7 linked regions of the Homo sapiens genome follow. The protein of the gene in region 5 purifies or fractionates together with the protein of the main gene of each other region. This does not show direct contact. Each region holds a gene or a part of one and is shown on either strand. Other genes may lie near its edges.

The links.
Region 1: the proteins of RIN3 (region 5) and IPO8 purify together in Homo sapiens (affinity purification with mass spectrometry; one large-scale study listed by BioGRID and IntAct). This does not show direct contact.
Region 2: the proteins of RIN3 (region 5) and TOMM70 purify together in Homo sapiens (affinity purification with mass spectrometry; one large-scale study listed by BioGRID and IntAct). This does not show direct contact.
Region 3: the proteins of RIN3 (region 5) and HTATSF1 purify together in Homo sapiens (affinity purification with mass spectrometry; one large-scale study listed by BioGRID and IntAct). This does not show direct contact.
Region 4: the proteins of RIN3 (region 5) and RNASEH2A purify together in Homo sapiens (affinity purification with mass spectrometry; one large-scale study listed by BioGRID and IntAct). This does not show direct contact.
Region 6: the proteins of RIN3 (region 5) and ERI3 purify together in Homo sapiens (affinity purification with mass spectrometry; one large-scale study listed by BioGRID and IntAct). This does not show direct contact.
Region 7: the proteins of RIN3 (region 5) and COPA purify together in Homo sapiens (affinity purification with mass spectrometry; one large-scale study listed by BioGRID and IntAct). This does not show direct contact.

The regions. Positions count from the first base shown.
Region 1 is NC_000012.12:30,668,370-30,671,869, forward strand, and holds part of IPO8 (importin-8), read right to left. Parts: intron 2,728-3,500; coding exon 2,593-2,727; intron 914-2,592; coding exon 814-913; intron 1-813. UniProt on the Homo sapiens protein: Involved in nuclear protein import, either by acting as autonomous nuclear transport receptor or as an adapter-like protein in association with the importin-beta subunit KPNB1.
Region 2 is NC_000003.12:100,370,090-100,373,589, forward strand, and holds part of TOMM70 (mitochondrial import receptor subunit TOM70), read right to left. Parts: coding exon 3,449-3,500; intron 2,634-3,448; coding exon 2,517-2,633; intron 1-2,516. UniProt on the Homo sapiens protein: Acts as a receptor of the preprotein translocase complex of the outer mitochondrial membrane (TOM complex). Recognizes and mediates the translocation of mitochondrial preproteins from the cytosol into the mitochondria in a chaperone dependent manner.
Region 3 is NC_000023.11:136,504,092-136,507,591, reverse strand, and holds part of HTATSF1 (17S U2 SnRNP complex component HTATSF1), read right to left. Parts: intron 3,229-3,500; coding exon 3,129-3,228; intron 1-3,128. UniProt on the Homo sapiens protein: Component of the 17S U2 SnRNP complex of the spliceosome, a large ribonucleoprotein complex that removes introns from transcribed pre-mRNAs.
Region 4 is NC_000019.10:12,811,862-12,814,140, reverse strand, and holds the end of RNASEH2A (ribonuclease H2 subunit A), read right to left. Parts: intron 1,059-2,279; coding exon 935-1,058; intron 814-934; coding exon 675-813; 3' UTR 501-674; downstream 1-500. UniProt on the Homo sapiens protein: Catalytic subunit of RNase HII, an endonuclease that specifically degrades the RNA of RNA:DNA hybrids. Participates in DNA replication, possibly by mediating the removal of lagging-strand Okazaki fragment RNA primers during DNA replication.
Region 5 is NC_000014.9:92,687,138-92,689,494, forward strand, and holds the end of RIN3 (ras and Rab interactor 3), read left to right. Parts: intron 1-788; coding exon 789-1,115; 3' UTR 1,116-1,857; downstream 1,858-2,357. UniProt on the Homo sapiens protein: Ras effector protein that functions as a guanine nucleotide exchange (GEF) for RAB5B and RAB31, by exchanging bound GDP for free GTP. Required for normal RAB31 function.
Region 6 is NC_000001.11:44,320,758-44,324,257, forward strand, and holds part of ERI3 (ERI1 exoribonuclease 3), read right to left. Parts: intron 1-3,500.
Region 7 is NC_000001.11:160,294,751-160,298,250, forward strand, and holds part of COPA (coatomer subunit alpha), read right to left. Parts: intron 2,996-3,500; coding exon 2,806-2,995; intron 2,689-2,805; coding exon 2,593-2,688; intron 1,400-2,592; coding exon 1,311-1,399; intron 1,110-1,310; coding exon 986-1,109; intron 108-985; coding exon 18-107; intron 1-17. UniProt on the Homo sapiens protein: The coatomer is a cytosolic protein complex that binds to dilysine motifs and reversibly associates with Golgi non-clathrin-coated vesicles, which further mediate biosynthetic protein transport from the ER, via the Golgi up to the trans Golgi network.

The sequences.
Region 1 (3,500 bases), on a different chromosome or scaffold from region 5:
ACTAAGGGGAAAGCACTGCTTCATTACAGCACTTTCAGCACGCAGCGCTAGATTTAGCAATCATTTCTTTCAACATGTATTGAAGGCATACTGGAGGCCAAGCACTAGTGGAGGAATGCAGAGGTGTAGAAGAGACAGAAAATGCAAAATTAAGCAAATAAGGTAAAATTCCTGTCCTGAGAAAGCTTCTAAGTTGTGGGAGATAGGTATGCAAATTAATATTTTGCTATGTTAAGTGCTTGAGTGTTCCATGAAGCAATTAATACAAACTGGGAATAAAAGGGAATAAATCAGGCCACCTACACAATTCAACAGTTTCCAGGAAGATCCAAGTTAAAAGGACACCCAAAGAATTGGACCACACACAGTAGGGCCCCCATACGAAATTTATTTCCCTTGTGGAACACTTAGTCTCTCAGACAAGCAAGCAAACCAAATTGGGGTACCCCTAAAATATGCAGAAATCCAAAGTATTTCCCACATGAGAACAACCCAATCTATAAATGAGTCTCCCAAAAGGCACAAAAACGGATGGTCCCTGCAGATCAGCATCGCAACAGCATAAGTAACAGATGGCTCAACTTGAGCACCCGTAAGAGAGATGAATGAGGTGGCTTTTCATCTCCCACATCCGACAATCTCCAGTTCTCTAGTTCAACAAAATAACATCAAACTCTCAAAGTTTCAGATTATGTCATGCAAAACAGAACCTGGGAGATTTAATAAAGTAATAACATTTGCTTAAAAATATAAATTTAGTTATATTACTTTACATATCCAGGAACTGATGAGAAATAAAACCATCTCAATTACCAAATTTCATCCTTATATACTCATATGGATCTTCTTGCCACAGCTCTTCATCCTCATCTTTATAACACATCACAGAAAAAATCACATCTTCAGAGATATTCTAAAATGAGAAAAAAAAAAAAACGTAACAAATGGGTATAGGCTATTCAAGTTTGAGGAATACTAATAATGTACTTGTTGACAGCCTTTATGATGTTAGTTTTCCAAACTCTGTGTGTGTGTAAAATGTCAAGTCGAGGTTATATTTACTATTATAGTTCTTATTTTGAAATTTTTTTTAACATTTCCATTTTAGTCCTAAATGTCCATGTATTAACAATATTAAAGGGCCAGGCATGGTGACTCATGTCTGTAATCCTACCTCTTTGGAAGCCCAAGGGCAGAAGGATCGCTTGAGGACAGGAGTTCAAGACCAGCCTGGGCACTGTAGCGAGACCCCATCTCCAAAAAAATACATAAAAACGTAGCCAAGCATGGTGGCGTCCATCTTGGAGGGTCTCTTGAGCCTAGGAGCTCAGGGCTGCAGTGAGCCATGATCATGCCACTGCAGTCCAGCCTGTGCAACAGAGTGAGACTCCAGCTCCAAAAAAAAAAAATTGGAATTTTCTTTACTTCTATTCCCAAAAAAACTAATTTCCTACTCCACAAATGTTTCAGTTAGAGAAAAGTCCTATCTACTAGCCTCTCTGTGCACTGCTACTAATGTCCTATTAAGCCCTTTTAGGCTCTAACAACAATTTATATAAAAACAGGATCATCTCTTACCACTTAATTCCAAATTAAATAATTCTAAGTGAAAAAATTCAGCCTAAGGATCAGCGTTTTCTTATTCCTACTTTACAGCTATGTAAAAATAAAGCCAAAGGTATGAAGTAGAGAAGAAATGTTATCACAACTCACCCTTACTTTACAGGAACACAGCAAATGAAATCAGTATCTTTATTAATTAATTGCAAAGAAATTATCACTATTTGATCAAAGTGATTAGGCAAATAGTTATTAAGATATCTACATAAATCAAAGAAAAGATATCTGTTGGTAAGACGGGTAATAACACTAAAATTCTATCCTGGACAGCAAACAGCAAAGTGAAAGATTTTTCTTTTCAGATATCATTTATAAAATTTAAGAATTCACAGTTTGGGAGAGAGTAGGTATTCAGTTCCTAAGACTGTCAAATTATCCAATTATTTGTATACAAGGAAGTATTTATTTATTAGTGGCCTATAATTTTCCATTCCCATTTGTTCTTTAGCTAAATAACAATACTGAATTCTACCTTTAGGCAAACGATATAGAAACAATGATGCTATTGAACTTAACAATCCAAGAAAATAAATAAAAACCTTGCTCATACCTACAAAATAAAACGGTCACATATCAGTCTTCAATTCCTGCAAAATAACACTACCTTAGTAGAGCCCTGGTAAGTTTTCAAAATACTTTCTCACAAAATACCTCATTTAATCCTAGCAACTTTTAGATAAGAATAGAAAAACACTATGTGCCTTAATAGAGGAGAAAATGAGGCTTAATGAGATTAAGCAAGATCAAGTGAATCCAGGTCTCCCGACTCATAAAACTTGAAGGCTTCACTTTTCTCAAATGCTTAAATTTCTAAGCCCTTTATATCTGACATAGGACTTCACTCATTAGAAATTATTAATGGTAAAATGTATATATATAAAATGTAAAATATAGGATTAGTAATACTAACTTTGTCTAGAAAACCTAATTTAACCAGAGAATAATTTTGGAGAGCTGCTCTCTGACACTAACCTGTATGTGTGGCTTCATCTGCTTCCAGGTTATAGAATGAACCACCCCTTGGTTGAGATAGTTGAATGCTTGCTGAAGAACACGGGGAGCTACATATTCTTTCTGTCTATATTGATCTAAAATTTTTAGTAGCACCTATAAGAAAACAGAAAATACAGACTAACATAAACAATTATAAGGTTAAAAGGGGGAGGTGCCATTTTTGGCATGACCTAAAATTCAGAATCCATAGAAAAATAAACAGATTTGGGAGAAAAATCAATGTTTTGTAAGAAAGCTCAGATAAACAGCTTTAATTATTAGATAGGTCCATGTTATATTGAACTAAACGGTGTCTCATTGTAACTTCCAGGCAAAGTCTAAATTTCTATTCCACTGCTAGCTCTTCAAAGTAAGTTAAAACTCCTGTTTAAAAAATTACAATAACAGGAGCCGGGCACGGTGGCTCAAGCCTGTAATCCCAGCACTTTGGGAGGCCGAGGCGGGCGGATCACGAGGTCAGGAGAACGAGAGCATCCTGGCTAACACGGTGAAACCCCGTCTCTACTGAAAACACAAAAAAATTAGCCGGGCGTGGTGGCGGGTGCCTGTAGTCCCAGCTACTGGGGAGGCTGAGGCAGGAGAATGGCATGAACCCCGGAGGCGGAGCTTGCAGTGAGCCGAGATCGCGCCACTGCACTCCAGCCCTGGGTGATAGAGCGAGACTCTGCCTCAAAAAAAAAAAAAAAAAAAAAAAAAAATTACAATAACAGATCTGACTAAAGAAACATTAAAAACTTCCATACAACAAGAGACAGCACAAAGATGTTTCTTTATTTCATAAAGACTTCTTCAAATTAGAAGAGAAAAGTTGTTCAAAAAATAGTATTGGCATAACTGATTAGCCCCCTGAAAAAATTTAAATTAAC
Region 2 (3,500 bases), on a different chromosome or scaffold from region 5:
TAAAAATCGCTCTTAAAAATATCAAAGAAATGTAGCCAGCACATCTTCTTTATAATAAAAATCAGAAAGATATAGAAAGTAGAAATATTTTTATAGCTTCCATCATTGTGAGCATGGATGCCTTCCTGATATATTTTTCTATCTCTATTTACTTCCCTATTTGTTTTCTTTCACATGGTTGAGTTCATTTTGTATGCAATTCTCCCTTTAATAATAGGCAGTGCTGTATCTTGCTTTGTAACTTTAATGTATTTGTAACTTTTAATGGCTGCATAATATACCATTAAGTGAGTGTACCACAATTCTGCAAACATAATTCAATTTTCTGTTAACATTTAGGATTTTCCCCAATTGTTTGTCATAGTTAACAATAATGTAATAAATACTTATTTTGAAAACAAAAGCAGCAGCTATAATCAACTTTTTAAGACAAATCCCACGGCTGAAATGGAAGGCACAGTTCTGTGGATATCAGACTATGCTCAAGCTGTAACTTTGCGAGTTGGCCAGCATCTACGCCAAAGCTTTGAGGGCCAAAAAAGTTACACTAAGTATATATATATACACATACACATACACACACACGTACTGTATGCATATATAAAGTTACATATACTATATAGTGAAGCTAAAATTAGAAAACAGACCAAAGAAAAGAAATTTGAGTGCAAACTGACTGTAATAATGCTAATGCTGATGAGAAGACAGCTCATACAAACCAAACCTATCTTGAAGGCAGAATGGTAATAGGGAAATATGCTATTGGGAAAGTTCTGCAGAGGAGTTGTTCCCCAGTAGTGGTTCCTATTCGGTGGCCTTTGCTCTTCTAGATGCTTAGAGAAATCTGCACCAAAAAAGCCCTTCTGAATTCCATGACAATGATGAGGATGTTGCTGTCATTTCCTGGTTTGTTACTAATTATAAGGCATAAACTCAAGTGTACCCATTCATAGGATTAAAATGTACACTTTAATGTAGTTATATATAAGACCTACCTCTAAAGAACAGATCCAACACAAATCAATTTTCTCATAGTTCCACCCTCAATAAACCCTTAAAATCCTTGTGAAATTGTTCTTATAACCTGCCTACAGATACCATGAAGGAAATTAAAAACAAAATAAGCATCCTTAAGAATGGTTTAAGGAGAGGGGTCAACCAGCGATGGTATTTTTTTTTTTTTTTTTTTTTTTTGGAAATGGAGTCTCACTCTTGCCCAGGCTGGAGTGTGGTAGTGTGATCTCAGCTCACTGCAACCTCCGCCTCCTGGGTTCAAGCGATTCTCCTACCTCAGCCTCCCGAGTTGCTGGGATAACAGGTGTGCGCCAAACCACACCCAGCTAATTTTTGTATTTTTAGTAGAGATGGGGTTTCTCCATGCTGGCCAGGCTAGTCTCAAAACTCCTGGCTCAAGTGATCCGCCTGCCTCAGCCTCCCAAAGTGCTGGGATTGCAGGCAGGAGCCACCACACCCAGCCAGGGGATAGTAATTTGTTATCGTTTCCTATTTCTGTGCTGTGGGGAAAAACCCAACATGTCTTTTGTAATTAAAAAGAGAAAAAAAAAGAAAAATAAATTACATAGAGCAGCAGTCCCCAACACCTTCCCAGCACTTTTGGCACCACGGATTGGTTTTGTGGAAGACAATTTTTGCATGGATGGGGGTAGGAGGAGGAGGGATGGTTTTGGGATGAAACTGTTCCACCTCAGATCATCAGGCATGAGAATCTAATGCTGCTGCAGATTTGACAGTGACAGGAGGTGGAGCTCAGGTGGTGATGCTTGCCCAAGGCTCACCTGCTGTGCAGCCCCATTCCTAAGAGGCCACAAAGCAGCTGTACCCCTGATATAGAGTATTGAGATGGCTAGTTTATGTAGACACCAAAACCAATTTTCAGCTTTAAGAAAGAAAACTGAGTCATTCAGAGATCTTTTATTTGAGGGGAAAATGTATGACCGTCACTACAAGAAGCTAATCATTTTCATTTAAATGGATGATTTAAAACTAAGAAGTTTTCAAGAATTTCAGACTACAATAAAAAAATTCAGATTTAAATCCTGCTTTCCATAGCTTCAATCCTAAACCAAGAGAGTTTCAGGAATTTTAGATAAAGCAAAGATAAATTAAAATAAACCGTTACAACAACCTAGCCATATAAAAAGGCAGTGACCAGATAGAAAGAAAAGCCTTTCCGTGGATATTTTCTCCACCAATTGCATACGGTAAATTTTCCTAAGGTAATTACTTTTTGCAAAACCAATCCAAATGAAGACAGGAGGGAAATTCTCGCCTTAAGCTTCCCCATATTGAGTTTAGGGCCATGATTTCCAAATTGTGTAACAAAGGAGCCTCTTCTGAGGTGATTCGGGACCAACCAGGGGCCATGAGAATCAATCAGGAACAAAGCCACCTGCTTCCAAAGAAGCTGCAACCATGATAGCACTGTTTTCTGATTTCCATACTGAGATTTGGCATATGTATGCAGTTATTTTTAAAAAACCTGAAAAAACATTTACCTGGGCGTATAGTGCATAGCCTTCGGCACACCTTGGAAATTTCTTTATGACCTCTTCAAAACCTTTCATAGCTGCTTGGATTTGTGAAGAGTTGTTTCCCGTATATGCCTGGCGGTACTATAAAAAATCAAAACAGGCCTGTCAAATCAAGAACTCAAAAACTCATGGAATGTTAACATAAACACACAAAATTACATAAATATTTCCAAAAAAACAGGTGATTTGCTAACATAATCTGCAGCATCCAAAAGGGTTCCAAGTAGGTATCTCAGCAGCAGAGAGCCAAAGGTTATGTACAACTAGGACTCCATGGCCACTATACAATTTCAAGATGTTCAATACTGTAGAAGAGGGCATACTAATTTGTAAGAAGTGAACTTTGCAATAAATGAATTTTAAATCTAGTAAAATTTTTGTCATTTTCATTTATAATATATATTTGTGACATAATTTCTTCCTTTAAACTGAAAATTCTTTTACGACTCCAGCCATACAGCTAACTGGAAGTATCTTATTTTACTAGAAAAATTTTTACTTAAAAAAAAAAAAAAAACAACCTTTTGAGCTTTGTGTTTCTGAATATTAAGAAACAGTTCTATGAAGCAGGGGTGAGAGAGCAAGTTACATGGTGTCATGTTTACAGAGTGTTTCCTCAAAATGTTTTTGCTCTTTATATTGATTTATGATGAAGCAGGGAGACCAGTTCTGTTTAGGGAAGTATAAAATCAGGGACAAACATCTATCAAGATGAACCCAAACAAATGTCCAGAGAAATACAAGAGCTAGGTATCAATCAGCACCTTTTTTCCTCAGTAGTTATCCTTTGGGAAAGAAAGAAAAAGACGACTTTGTAGACAATGAGATACTCATTTTTGTTGACGCTGGAAAATAAAAGTGATGTTTAGGAAAATACAAAAGAAAGTAGTACCTACCAATGCAAAACATTTCTGTGCTTGTGCCAGAGCAGACTCAGGTCTTAACCTA
Region 3 (3,500 bases), on a different chromosome or scaffold from region 5:
AGTGCTTTGCTTTCTTTCTTTTTTTTTTTTGAAGACAGAGTCTTACTCTGTTGCCCAGGCTGGAGTGCAGTGGCGCGATCTTGGCTCACTGCAGCCTCTGCCTCCCGGATTCAAGTGATCCTCGTGCCTCAGCCTTCCAAGTAGCTGGGATTACAGGTGCGTGCTATCATGCCCGGCTAATGCATTTGAGTTTTGACTCTTCATGTCCTGGTATTCAAATTTGCCAGGCAATGCATTTTAAAGTAAGGATTTGAATTAAATACTGAAGACCCTCTGAAGTTACATTAAAAATGTTAGCCTTCAGATCAGACAGTATTCTTAGGTATGTTGCTTCTAACTGTTTGGAATCAAAATATACCCCTCCACCCAAAATCTGACTCCTTTCAGATATCTCAGGATAACCTGACAATTCAGTTTTTGTTTTCCACTAAAAAGCTCAATGCTGCTGTGTGTTCTTTAGGTTCATATGGAGTCTTGAGTCAAATCAAACACTCCCCCAAAACATGCAATAAAAGCAGGTTTTCCTGTTGGACACTTCTATCAAAAGTTATATAATGTCTATACCAGTGTTGTCCAATAGAAGGTTCTGTGATAATGAAAATGTTGTATATCTGCATTATCCAATATGGTAGCTACTAGCTACATGTGCCTAGTAGAAGCGATGAACTGAATTTTATTTCATTTTAATTAACTTACATTTAACCACACATGGCTACAGTCTACCATATCTGACAGCACAGGTCTACACTGAGGTTCAGGTGCTCAGAGACAGTGAACAAAAGCAAGATTATTTGTCACTCTTCTTGTTGACACGCTCTCAGCAAGCTAGTTGGACCATGTGAGGCCAGGAAGGTGGGCAAACAAGGATAGCATCACCAAGCATTTCTTTGTGAACTAATTCCGCCACGGCCAAGACAATGTCCCACCATCCTTTGTGGAATAAGCATCTAAGAAGAAAATTTGCTTTCATTTGCAAAGATGCTGAAGAGAAAATGTTTTATCCACTGGCTGAATGAAAAGACTCTGGCTTGTAAATAACAAGGGTTTCATTTAGCAATTCTTTCAATTCTTCATCACATAAATATTAAGGGCCAACTGTGTGCCAGGCAAATTCTATGTACTGAGAATACAGCAGCAAACAAGGTAGACAAAATACTGGGTGTCATGGAGCTCACATTCTAGTAGACGAGTCAAAATTACTTCAGATAATAATAAATGCTATGAAGGAAACAAAATAGGGTAGTATAAAGGCTCTGTAACTCCAAAGTAATGTTTATACTAAACCAAGAAGATTAAAAAAAAAATCAGGAATTTGCAAGCATGAAACTTCTATCTTTAAAAATATTCACTGGAGGGAATGTATAGGGGTCAAGGTAGAATAAATGTGGTTTTGGGGAAAGAATATTTGTTAAGCTGGGAAGAGCTAAGTCTGCCTGGGGTGATCCTTAGACTCAAATAAGGTATTTCAATGAGCAAGGCAGGAGGTAGAAACAAGAATAGATTAAAATTACACAACAGACTTCTACTTGCAGAGGTTCCAGATAGTTTGAATTAGGTTTGCATTTACATTCACACTTGGGTGGCAGGAGTATGAAATGTGTGAATCAAAGACCTCGAGTCACAGAAATAAATATGTCACCTAATAAATCACTTATTTAGCAGGGGGATAAAATGTAATAAATAATAGGAAATCCCGGAGTTGTATTTAGCAGACTAAATATTGTGATCAATCTGTGCATTTATTTTATATGCTGCTTTAATGACTATGATCTGGTTCTTTGTTTTGTTTTATTTTGTTTTGTTTTGAGATGGAGTCTCGCTCCGTTGCCCAGGCTGGAGTGCAGTGGCGCGATCTTACCATAACCTCTGCCTACCGGGTTCAGGTGATTCTCCTGAATCAGCCTCCTGAGTAGCTGGGATTACAGGTATGCGCCACCATGCCCAGCTAATATTTTTGTAATTCTATGCATTCATTTTAAAGTTATTGCTGGCAAAAACAGTATTTCAAAATGCATCTGGTGTGCACGTGTTTATAAACCATACTTCATTATCACTGCAACTGTAAAACTGTAAACTGTTATATTTCAAAATTCTTCCAGATTTCTAGTCAGAAGAGATATCAATCAATCTCATAAATAAACCAGACGTATATTTCCAATGACCTCAAAAGATGCCCAAACTCCATAGGTACACAGTAAACCTTATCACAACACTATTCATTGAGATAGAGCTGAACTGTCCATTTTGGGGCCCTCTCTAAGGGAGCTACAATTATATTACCATTTTGACTGTTTAAATGCACAAAAGGGTCAGGAATGGGCACTAATTTACAACTAGATTATTGGTAAAAACGGAATTTTACGTTATGAACATTTTTCTCTGTATAACTTGCTATCTGTATAACCTGCTTTCTGTATAACTTGCTATCACTAATTTCAGAACCAGGGAGAGAATAAAGAGTTGTTTCTCCACAACAATAAAGTCAGTCTACACCAGTAGACAGAGATAAGAATACAGGCAGAATGTAACACAAGGTACTTTGATGACAATATTCCTCAGAACTCCTTGTTCTTTGCTTCTCCTTTATTCACTTTTTTGAGGGGAGGAAGGACAGTTCCATTAACTTTTTTTAAAATCACTTAAAAAAGTTGATACATAACAGATGTACTTATTCACTTTTACTTGCTGTTCTTGGAATTTTCCACGGACATTAAATATTATAACTTTTAGTACCAAACTGAAGTTTGCATTTACAATTGTGAAGCTGGTACTCCCCACCAAAATCAGGCCATACTTGTTGGCTTGCACTGAAAATCCACAAGCAGTTCCCATAAATCTTTTGATGATGATATTTTTCAATGGTTTCCCATACCAAGTAGCTGCTGCTTGGGGCGCAGTATGGTTATTAAACAGTCTTATCTGTGATACACTTTAAAACAATACTGGGCTAAACAAAGGGAAGGGAAATCAAAAGACTTAAGTAGCTTCTTGGCTCCATCTTCCTTTACTACTCGCTGCACAAACACGTAGGAGGTGACAAGACAAAGATGAGGCGAGGCAAGCTCCAGGCTCCCTTGAGAGAAAAAAAGCCTATCAGCATTTCTATCAGTAAGCACACCACTTCCTACCTCAAAATCCATAGGATGAAACATATTCTTGATGATGACAACTCGCTCATGGCGCATCCGGGATGGTCCGGCTCGCCTCTCAGGTCTCCAATCCAACTGCCTGAGGCAATGAAGCAGTAACAACAAACTGTAAATTTTGCTTCAGACTTGTTGGAGAGAGAAAAGAATGAGTTGTTCATACAATACTTTACTGAGTATTTAATAAAGATAATTACTGGATTTTACAACAACAAACTGTATTTCAGTCATAGTTCCAGTCAGAAAACTTTCTGAAATAAAAATAATGGGCAGGGGGCCGTGTGCGGTGGCTCATACCTATAATCCCAGCACTTTGGGAGGCCGAGGCGGGCGGATCACTTGAGGCCAGGAGTT
Region 4 (2,279 bases), on a different chromosome or scaffold from region 5:
CGCTTGAACCCAGGAGGCAGAGGTTGCAGTGAGCCAAAATTGCATCACTGCACTCCAGCCTGGTGACAAAGTGAGACTCTGTCTCAAATTAAAAAAAAAAGAAAGAAAGAAAAGAAAAGAAAATTAGCCGGGTGTGGTGGTGTGCACCTGTAATCCCAGCTACTCAGGAGGCTGAGGCAGGGGAATTGCTTGAACCAGGGAGGTGGAGGTTGCAGTGAGCCAAGATTGTGCCATGGTACTCCAGCCTGGGCAACAGGAGACTGTGTCTCAAAAAAAAAAAAAAATTAGTTGGGCATGGCACACGCCTATAGTCCCAGCTGCTTGGGAAATTGAGGCAGGAGAATCGCTTGAACCTGGAAGGCAGAGGTTGCAGTGAGCTGAGATTGCCCCATTCTACTCCAGCCTGGGTGACAGAGTGAGACTTCGTCTCTCAAAAAAATAAAATAAAATAAAATAAAATAAATAAAATTTAAAAATGAAAAAAATCAAACCAAATAAAATTAATCAACCAACACCCATTCTATTTAAGGTTCCAAAAGGAAGTAGCTGGACCCGGCTGCAGAGCACACTCCCACCTTGCTTCTGTCCCAAAAGTACATCCCCTACGTGTGGTTCTCCTTAAACAATTTTAATGTCTGGGTTGGGGAAGCAGGTAGAGCGCGTAGAGGCAGCTGCTAGAGGCTGGTTGCTGACTCCAGGCCGCGTTCCAGGAAATATCGGTGGGAAGAACGGGGACGGGCTTGGGACCCTTCATTGAGGAAGTAGGATGTGATCTTCCTGAGTCCCTCCTGATTCTCGGATGCTGAGTCCTCCCTGTGGGAGAGAGGTGATGACAGTGACCACTTACACAGGGAGCAACCCTCTCAGGCAGGGCTGAACGCTGGCCTCCCTCCTTCCTTCCCTATAGCACCCCCAGGACATCCATGACACCCACCATATAACATCTTCCGCCTCTTTCTCCAGGATGGTCTGGGCCGTGCGCCAGCTGAACCGGACAAACTGGGGGAAGCCGAACACAGGCTCCACGTGCTCCTTCAACCACGCTTTTGTCTTGGGATCTGGGGTAGGGTGGGCAATGGTGACAGTCCAAGTTGCACCATAACATTCAAGCTCCCTGCCACTCTTTTTTTTTTCTTTGAGATGGAGTCCCACTCTGTAGCCAGGCTGGAGTGCAGTGGCGCGATCTCAGCTCACTGCAACCTCCACCTCCCGGATTCAAGCGATTCTCCTGCCTCAGCCTCCCAAGTAGCTGGGACTACAGGCGCATGCCACCATGCCCAGCTAAATTTTGTGTTTTTAGTAGTGACGAGGTTTCACCATGTTGGCCAGGATGGTCTCAATTGCTTGACCTCGTGATCTACCCCCCTCGGCCTCCCAAAGTGCTGGGATTACAGGCATGAGCCACCACGCCCGGCCTCCTTGCCGCTCTTCTAAGGCTTCCTCCTGAGTACCTGGGGCACCTCCTATGGTCTGAAGCACCTTCTTGCCACAGGACCTTTACCTGGCCAAGAGCTGCTAAAAGGGCAGTGCAGGGAGACTGCCTCTGAGACATCTCCTTGACCTCCAAGAACAAGTCATTAAACATTTTTATTTTATTTACTTATTTTTTGAAATGGAGTCTTGCTCTGTCACCCAGGCTGTAGTGCAATGGTGCGATCTCGGCTCACTGCAACCTCCGCCTCCCAGGTTCAAGCGATTCTCCTGCCTCAGCCTCCCAAGTAGCTGGGACTACAGCCACCCACCACCATACCTGGCTAATTTTTGTATTTTTAGTAGAGACGGGGTTTCACCATATTGGACAGGCAGGCTGGTCTCAAACTCCTGACCTCAGGTGATCCACCCACCTCAGCCTCCCAAAGTGCTGGGATTACAGGTGTAAACACCACACCCAGCCTTTTTATTTTTTTGAGATAGGGTCTCGCTCTATTACCCAGGCTGGAGTGCAGTGACATTATCACAGCTCAATGCAACCTCTGCCTCCCAGGCTCAAGCCATCCTCTCACCTCAGCCTCCCAAGTAGCTGGGACTACAGGTGCGCACCACCACACCTAATTTTTGTATTTTTTGTAGAGATGGGGTCTTGTCATATTGCCCAGGCTGGTTGTGAATTCCTGAGTTCACATGATCTACCTGCCTCTGTCTCTTAAAATGCTAGGATTACGGGCATGAGCCACCTGGCCCAGCCTGTCATTAAATATTATTATTATTATTATTATTATTATTTTGAGATGGAATTTTGCTCATTTCCCAGGCTGGAGTGCAATTATGCGATCTCGGCT
Region 5 (2,357 bases):
GGAGCTTCCAGCGCCTGCTCGCCCATTTATGGGAGGCGGGCGCTATCCCCACTTTACAGCCGGGGCTCGACGAATCAAGGCCACACAGGCAGTGGGAGCAAAGGCAAAGCCCGGCAGGTGTGGGGCTGGGTCCCTAGGGGTGGAGGACGGCGGGCGGGCGCCCTGCTCGTGCTGCGAGTGCCCAGCCCCAGCCCGCAGGCGTCGCCTCGCCTTGCCCGCCCTGCTCATGCCGGGCCTTCCCCACCCGACTGCGCCCAGCCTCCTTCACCCGGTCCCCTCCCGCTTTACCAATCCCTGCCCCACGCAGCTCCTCAGAGCCCCAGGGCTCTTGCAGCCCTAAGGGGCTGGACTGTGTTGCCCGCCCGCACTATGGGATGCCCGGGCGGGCTCGCACCTCCCTTCTTATCTGTGCTGCCCTCCGTGCCCAGCATTGCGCCTGGGGTGCAGGGAACTCACCTGGAGGGAGGGAGGGAGGGAATGAATGAATGAATGAATGATGGGGAGCCTGTGGACCAGCAGCCAGGGGACGCGCCGGCTCCTCTTTGCAGGGACTCCGAGACGCGCCTTAATTCATCTCCCAGAACTGTCGGCCCAGCTGGGAAGCCAGGCAGGGAGGGGGACGGGCCCCCCGCAGGCTCGCGGCAGAGACGGGAAAGGCGCAGGTGCCGGACTCGCAGACAGCTTGGCGCCCGCCACCCGCTATCCATCCAGGGAGGGGCCTGGGCCGGGAGAGGGCGCCTGAGGAGACAGGGCCCCGCCGTGACCACAGGCCCCTCGCGTCTCCGCAGGACTTCATCTGCGTGTCGTACCTGGAGCCCGAGCAGCAGGCGCGGACGCTGGCGTCGCGGGCGGACACCCAGGCCCAGGCGCTGTGCGCGCAGTGCGCGGAGAAGTTCGCGGTGGAGCGGCCGCAGGCGCACCGGCTGTTCGTGCTGGTGGACGGGCGCTGCTTCCAGCTGGCGGACGACGCGCTGCCGCACTGCATCAAGGGCTACCTGCTGCGCAGCGAGCCCAAGCGCGACTTCCACTTTGTCTACCGGCCCCTGGACGGTGGTGGCGGCGGCGGCGGCGGGAGCCCGCCCTGCCTGGTGGTGCGGGAGCCCAACTTCCTGTGAGGCCCTCCCGGGGCGCCTCCCCTCACCCCCAGGCGCACGTCTGGCCCCGCCTCTGGCTGCGCACTCCCGACCGCGACGTCCACGCAGCAGAGGGACATGGGCCATTCCATGACGTGCCCAGGCCAACGTCGCAGGACAGTTGTGAAAATAACATGACGCTCGTCCAAGGCCACTTCCTGAGGGCAAGTCCTAATAGCCCTGAGACACCGAGACGGCATGTTCTTCATTAGACGGAAAGGGAAACTGAGGCTCAGGAGAGAGGCGCTCCAGGCCGCTGCAGCCAACAAACCGGCGCCCTCTTCACACGTAGCTCCTCAGGCCATTCCCCATGAGTCCCCCACACCCACCCCATCCTCGGTCTTTGCAAAGAAGGGCCCGAGCTTAGTTTCCCCAGGACTGGCCTAGGAAGGAGCACCGGCCACAGCTGCTCCCCGTGCCACTCAGGGTGGACCCAGCATCTCAGGAGCACCTCAGGGTGTCGGTTAAGAGACAGGCCTCCACCCCTGCACCAGAGCCTGCTCTTAGCTCCCGGTGCCCCCAGACCCCGCAGCTCTGTGCCCGGCAAGAAGCAGCTAGACACACGCCAGGGCGCCAAGCACGGCCAGCTCCGCGGACCCATGGACAAGCCCAGCCCCGCCTCAGGGAAAACAGGGCCTTTCCCTACAGGACACGCCCCAGAGCTGTGGCAGATTGCAGGAGCCATCGTGTGGGGAGAATTTAATAAAAGCCCTTTTGAAAATGACATCTTTTCTGAAGGGGCTGGAGCTCTGCACAGCCAGCCCCGCATTCACAGCCTCACCTCCTTCCCGGGTGGCTTCAGAAGACCCCCTCTTTGCCATGGGGATCCTGTCCTCTGCCAGAACCTGTGGCATACTCTCAGCCACCCTCAGCACCCTCAGCCCTTGGGACCCTGGCCCCTGTCGGCCCGTCAGCCTCCCACCATCCTTGGCTCCCGTCATCCCCAGCTTAGGATCAGAACCATCTGTCACCTCTCCCAGGGATACCATTGCCTGTAGTATTTGCCTGGTCAACTCCTATCCAACCTCCTCCAGGAAGCTTTTTTTTTTTTTTTTTTTTTTTTTTTTAAGACGGGGTCTCATCTTGTTCTGCTGCCCTGGAGGGAGTACAGTTGTGTGATCAGGGCTCACTGCAGCCTCCATCTCCTGGGCTCAGGAAGTCCTCCCACCTCAGCCCCCCAAGTAGCTGGGACTACAGGCTGGTGCCACCACACCTGGCTAATTT
Region 6 (3,500 bases), on a different chromosome or scaffold from region 5:
GTTTACAACACAAAAAAAAACTGCCCTGAAAACATCTGGAAGAGACAAATAGGAAATAATAAAAAAAATAAATAAAAGCAAAATTCTCTGAGTAAAATTAGCATGTGGAAAGGGCCTCCACTGCAGAGAGAAAGGAAGGGGGCTCTGCCTATTCAGTGACCCTAATAGTCAGCTCCAGCAGCACCCCTTCCCCAGGTCCTTCATTCTGGAGAAGACCTTTCCAGTATCATTAAAATCAAGGTAAAGTGGTTCTCTCCAGAGACAGCCTGGAGAAGCAACACGAAACGGATGACACCTGACTGCACTTAGGAAATTGATGGGTGGGAAAACACAAGGAGAAATGGTCAATCTCCTTGATGTCCCAGGAAAGCCAGGTATCCTCCCGGCAAAACATACCCACTAATATTGGGCTTGTTTTTAAAGCATCTATTTCAATCCAACACATCAGGACCGAAAACCAAATCAAGTCAGTCAGACTTCATGCCAGAGAGATTCAAAGATTGTGGTTGCCTTGTCTCCGTGGGCTGATCTCCAAAGATGAGGAAGCTGACAGGAGCTTATTCCCAGAGATAGAAAGGGCAAAATGGCTGCAAGGCTGAGGCAGAGGGGAGAGAAGGGAGGCCCAGACTGCTGCTTAGACCAGGTAATACCTCTCCTTCCAAGGTGAAGAGAGGGGGACACTCATTTCCCAATTCCCTGGACCTTCTGTTCCCCAAGAAGCATTACATACAGAGTAAATGGGGGTTTGGAACTGAATAACAAAATCGAACACACACCAAAAAAATACACATTGGTCCCCCTGCAAAATCAGGTATCCAGGATTCCAAGAGCCAACTCTGAGGTGTTGCCCATGAATCAGGCTCATCTGACTCCTGATTTTTCCGATGTGTCCTTCCTCTTCCCCTAAGTAGAAGAAACACTTCCTCAACAGAAAGAGCTCTATAGCCTGGTGAGTATGGCTGCCCTGGTGTCTAAGGAAACAAATACAGCCAGCTCCTCACTAACAATGTTAGCTGGGCCCACAATGAAATTTAACCTGTGACACAACTGTACTTTTCATTTAAACTTTCATTTGGAGAGCAGCAGTGTTTGGAGACCTACAGTTTGTCCTGCTAATAAAGACAAGTGTTGGGACCTTTAAGGATGCCATTCATCTTTGGCTTTTTATTAAATTCAATTTTCTTAAGCCCATGATACATTATGAAATTAGGAGTTGACATTCCTCTGGAAATAAAAATATCTATCAAACATTAATAGAAAAAAACCCTCTATTACCAAGAATTTATGGCTTAAAGTTGATCTCTTTCCACTTTTTTACAAGCACATGGTTTGTTTTAGATATCCGAAATGCTATTATAGATCTAGGATTTCATTAGTATTTATTATAAAATAGTATGTGCTTCAGCTTCCACTCTGACCAGCACCAAGTCAACATCCCCAGCAGACTCTCTGGAAACTTGGCCTTTGGGTTTCCGCATTGCAGCAAATAACAGCAAATACTGTAGCTCAATATTCAAACTTTCCTGATGTTAGCTTCCTCACCCATAGGGAAATGGGGCCAACTACGTGCTGAAACTCAGTGCCATGCTCCCAGAGAGGAAGAACAAGCCAGACTCGGATCCACGCAAAAAAAAAAAAAAGGAGGGGGGTAGGCCCCTGAAATTCCCAGGGTGCCTACACCCAAGGCTCAGGACACATCAAATTGGGCCTATTATAAACATATCTCTGATAATGCTAGCTCATCAGCCAAGCCTTCTCCCCAAGACCAAGAAGAGGTGGTTTCAAGCACCAGTCTCAAAACGTGACTTTGCAGGGGCCCTTCCTCCACAACATGAGGAGCTGTTATTAACAATGAGCCTACACACTGGCATATTCACTTGAGCTACTGAGGATGCAAAAGAGAAGCTTCTGAGAAAAGACTCTCTGAGAAATTAGAGCAGCAAGGACCTCACTGAGGTACTTCTTACCATCCCATATTGCCCAGCCAGTACTTCCATACTTCCCAGAACCTCAAAATACTGGCCCAAACAGCCCAGTAGTGGGAGAGGTGCCCCAATCTGCACCAAGTTGGCACAACTCTGCAGCCAGGGCACCTGAAGCATGACAAACATTTTGAAGATTTTTAGCTGATAATGATCAGAGATGGAACCCCAACACTACAGGTTAGTGGCATTAATCCCAACACAAAGATTTGTGACAATGTGCCCAAGTGCCAGCCTCTATGTCCAGTTGCTCAGATAATGAAACTGTTATTCCTGACCCTGACCTTTTCTCTCAGCCAATTTCATCATTCCCCTAGGAAGAGGTTTATTTCAGAAACAGTTTTGTGTAAAAGTAGCACCAGGAAGGAAGGAAGGACCAGTCGTATTTACCAGCCCTCTTTCCCTATCCTAATAATAGCTTTACAATTCTTTGCCTTTGTATGCCATTTGCATTCAATTAAACTACCTGAGTGCCTACTTTGTGTAGGCTATCAGACAGGGGCTGGAGCAGGACTAGAGATAAGATGTAGTCTCCACTTTGGAGAAGCACATGGACTATGAGTGGAAAAGATAGGCAAACAAAGAACAGTACACTGTGATAAATACCTTAGTGGAGGGACGTACACAGTGTTGTTTTTCCATTCACAAAAGTGTAGTTTCACATACATTTTCTTATTTTACCCTCCTTAATCCTGGCAGACAGGTTACATCATCATCACCATCACCATCTTCAGGTCATAAATCAATACTATTAAGCATCTACTATTCACCAGGCAGGGGCTGGCTGTAGACACAGAGATGAATACAATGAAAGGTGGCTCCTCTCTCTGAGATGCTCAAGTCTGGGCAAAGGGTGAAGAGGAGCTGGCCTCCAGTGCTCTCCAAGACATGTGGAAAATGCAATCGTTTTATTCCATTTATTGTTTACTACGTGGCAGATACTGTGCTAATAGGAATGATCTCATTTAATCCTCCTAACTCATGAGGTGGGAATCATAGTCATCCCTATTTCACAAATAAACTAAGGCCCAAAGATGTTAACTCACTTGCTGACACTTACACTGCTTGTGAGGGACAGAGCTGGAACTCCAAAATGGGAAAATGAGAATGAGACTTAAGAGTAGGACTAGCAGCTTTCAAAATATGAAGGGTCAAGAAAGATCTGGTTCTCTTAGTCTAAAAGGCTATCCTGTAGAGAACTCAAGTCTACCATCTAGAAAGAGAGGCTGCTCTCAAATTTTAAGAGCAATGAATGTGGACTCTCCAGGCAGAAAAGTTCTAGAGTTTGCTACTGAAAAGACTCCACCATGGCTGCAGTAACACAGATGGCACAGATGGCATCAGGGAAGGCAGGAACCATGTGCCTTCAGTGTGATCTCCAGCACCTAATTCCTATGCTGGCACACAGGCTTCACTCTCTCAACTTTTGTTGTGTAATCACATGAAAGGGCTGCTAAGTGGAGGAGACAAGCCAAAGGCCTAGCTGTACCAGAAGACACAAAACTCTCCGCAGAATCA
Region 7 (3,500 bases), on a different chromosome or scaffold from region 5:
TAAAACAGCACTTTTACCTTCATCCAACTGCAGCTCTGCATCCTCTCCCCAGCCCTCTGTACCAACAGTGTCAATGTCAATGTCAGCAGCCAGTGCTCCTCCCTTCCCTACAGAGGGAAGGAACAGAACGGAACTGGTTATAGTCCAGCAAGTCTGAGATACGGCCTTTTCTGTAGGCAGGTTAAATCCTTTCAAAAACAGGTGCCAAGCTTCTGCCTACTTACTATTTATTTTTGTGTATTATTTATTTTTGTGGTATATATGTTATGCTAACTTGCAGTAGCTTTCACAGAGGGAGGGAATAGAAGACAGATGGAAGGAACTGGCCTTCCTGCTACCAAAAACTGGCTCTTAAATAATTTGTACTTACCAGCCTTTGGCTACCAACTCTTGAATTTCTTCCTGAGCGCTTTGCTAAGCTACCACCACTACAATGTGTACAGGGCATCAGGCATAGGGTAGATAGAGGAGGTGGAGAAAAGAGTGGGGTTTGGCACAAAATGCTCAAGAGTCTGTTTAGGCTCTTACTCACGGGAAATGAACTAGGAGACCCAGAAAACAGGAGGAGGTTAAGGGTGGAAGTGGTGGAGGGTGATAGCACACATCTGCCTATACCCACATACCGGAATTACAGGTAGTTGAATTAGTACCTTTAAGATTGTATGTCATGAATGATAAAATACTGAACAAAGAACATGACTACATATATAGTAAAACCTAAGAAAATACACCAAAATATTAACCGAAGTTATTGATGGTAGTAGAGGGATCCCTTTTTTTCTCCCTATTTTCCAAATTTTCTTTAATGACCTGAAAATGCTATCTTAAGTTTTTAAGACTGCACCATAAATGACTGGCATTTCAATATTCCATTAGGCTCCATGCAGAAAAAAAGGACAAGTTAAACTAAATGCTAATGGTATTCTCTAGGACAGTTCTTCACAAAACAAACAACAAAAGTGCTATGGGAGAAATAGGTACTTACCTTTGCTGGCAATGGTGCCTTCAAAAAATCCTTTGGATACAGTCAATAAAGGCCAATTGGTATCCAATGGCATGATAGGTGCAGGTGGCTGGAGCAGCTTGGCATTAGGGTCAATGTCTGGGATCTGAATAGTAGAAGAAAAGAGGCTAAAAACAAATAGCACTTGGAAGTCACGTAAGGAAAGTTATGGAGCCTCCTTTGATCTCATTTGTTTCTCTGCCTCTCCTGGTAACCAGGTGGGAGAGTGACATTCATAATTTTAAATTGTTCTAAGATCCTAGAGTTAATCCTGTAATAAGAGACAATTATGTAAATAAAGACTCACTGTCTCCTTCTCTGGGTCAAATGTCTCCTTTAGGCTCTCAGCTTCTTCATCTAAGCCATGGGTAGCAGCTGTGAGATAGGCCAGGGACTCTGTAGAGAAAACAGACTTTGTGGTATAGGTACATTTCCAAATGCATGCTGCTGTGGTAAGCAACCTCTGAAATGGCCCCCCAGTAATCCCTGACTCCTGGTATTCAAGTTGTTGCAAAATACCCACCTCTTAAGTGTGGGCTGGATTTATTAAATAGCTTCTAATGGATGGAACATGGCAGATGTGATGGGATGTTACTTCCTAGATCTGGTTACAAAGATTGTGGCTTCTATCTTGGGGTGCCCTCTTTTGCTCACTTGCTGTAAGGGAAACTAGCTACCACGTTACAAACTCCTATGGAGAGGTCAACACGAAAAGAAAGTGATGTTTCTTAGACAACAGGGAGCAAGGACATGGGGGCTGCCAATGGCCATTGAGTGAGTGCAGAAGTAGATTCTCTCCCCGGTGAGTCTTCAGATATCTGCAGTTCTGGCCAACACTTTGACTGTAGCCTCATGAGAGATCCTAAGCCGGAGGCACCTAGCTAAGCCATGCCACAAATTGTGAAATAATAAATGTTTGTGGTTTTAAACTACTAAATTTGGGGATAATTTGTTACACAGAAATAGAGAACTAATATAGCTGCTTATCTTTGAGACGTATCCATCCGTGCTGAGAACCTTGGATATCCCTGACTCCTCTCTGTTACATCTCAAATCTAGTTACCGCAATAAATCATGTTGTTTCTACCTTAAAATATATCCTGAATCTGACCACTGCTCACCCCTCCACTAATAGCGCCTTGGTCCAAACCTCATCTTTCACCTTGCTTGTTTCCTAATGTATCTTAAATGCTAATATAATGCTTGGTATATAGTGGGTTCTCAAAAAATATCCCTTGACTATATACATGAATAAATGAGTGAAACCTCCAAACTGAAAATAAAGAATAAAATTCTAATGGCATCCAACCAAGTGCATTTACTAGGGCGTCCACTCAAGACCTTTTAAAACCTCCTATCTCCCCCATGAATAACTATTCTCCTAAGGGTGTTTGGCTGGACTGAATATTCTGGCTGCACCTCCCTTTGGCTTTGAAGAAAATCTTCTAAGCACAGTAGGAGCATGTTGTCTCTCCTAAAAAAATGCACAATAAAGAGAAATCCCTCACCACTATACACAGATTAACTCAACAAAAACAGAAAAATACTTCCTCAGACCCTGAAAAAGCTGGCAAGTCTCGGATACTTACTCTGTCCACAGTTCTTCAGGATCCGCACACGCTCTGACACATCACCCAGGTATAGGGCATTCTGATAGTGGCCACTCATGTCCTTTCTGATCTCAGCTGCACCAAGTAAGAGACACCAAGTTAGGTCTTTTCTCTTAAGTTCTCTTTCTCCTTAATTCACCTTCCTCCTTCCCCCAAGAACCCCTCTTCCCATCCTTAGTTTGAGGGCCTCACCAATCTTCATCATCTTGCGAAGTTTTTCTAAGTTGCCAGTGATAAGATACAGGAAGGAAAGTTTGTCAAAGTTTTTGGTACGCTGATAGCACATTTCCACAATCTGGTGGTTCCCCTGCAGCAGGGCCACTTCTCCCAGCTTTTCCCAGCAGTTCTTGTCATCCAGTGCTTTGGCTGCTTCCAGAGCAATCTAAAGAATCCCCAGGGTCGTGTTAACAGGTTGAAGGACAATGTGACTCAAAACCAAGGACTCTGCAAAGCATCTGCATCTATATAGATTTCCTGAAGAACTTCCTATACTTTCAATTACTCCTAGCTTTTAGTCTAATTCCATTGAAAATCGGCTGGGTGCGGTGGCTCACATCTGTAATCCCAGCACTTTGGGAGGCCAAGGCAGGCGGATCCCGAGGTCAAGAGCTCGAGACCATCCTGGCCAACATGGTGAAACCCTGTCTCTACTAAAAATACAAAAAAAATTAGCTGGGAATCATGGTGCACGCCTGTAGTCCCACCTACTCGGGAAGCTGAGGCAGGAGAATCGCTTGGACCCAGGAGGCGGAGGTTGCAGTGAGCCGAGATCATGCCATTGCACTCCAGCCTGGGCAACAAGAGCGAGACTCCGCCTCAAAAAAAAGAAAAAAAAAAAAAGAAAATCCAGTGAACACATAGGACCCCTTTGGATACAGAGATGGAAA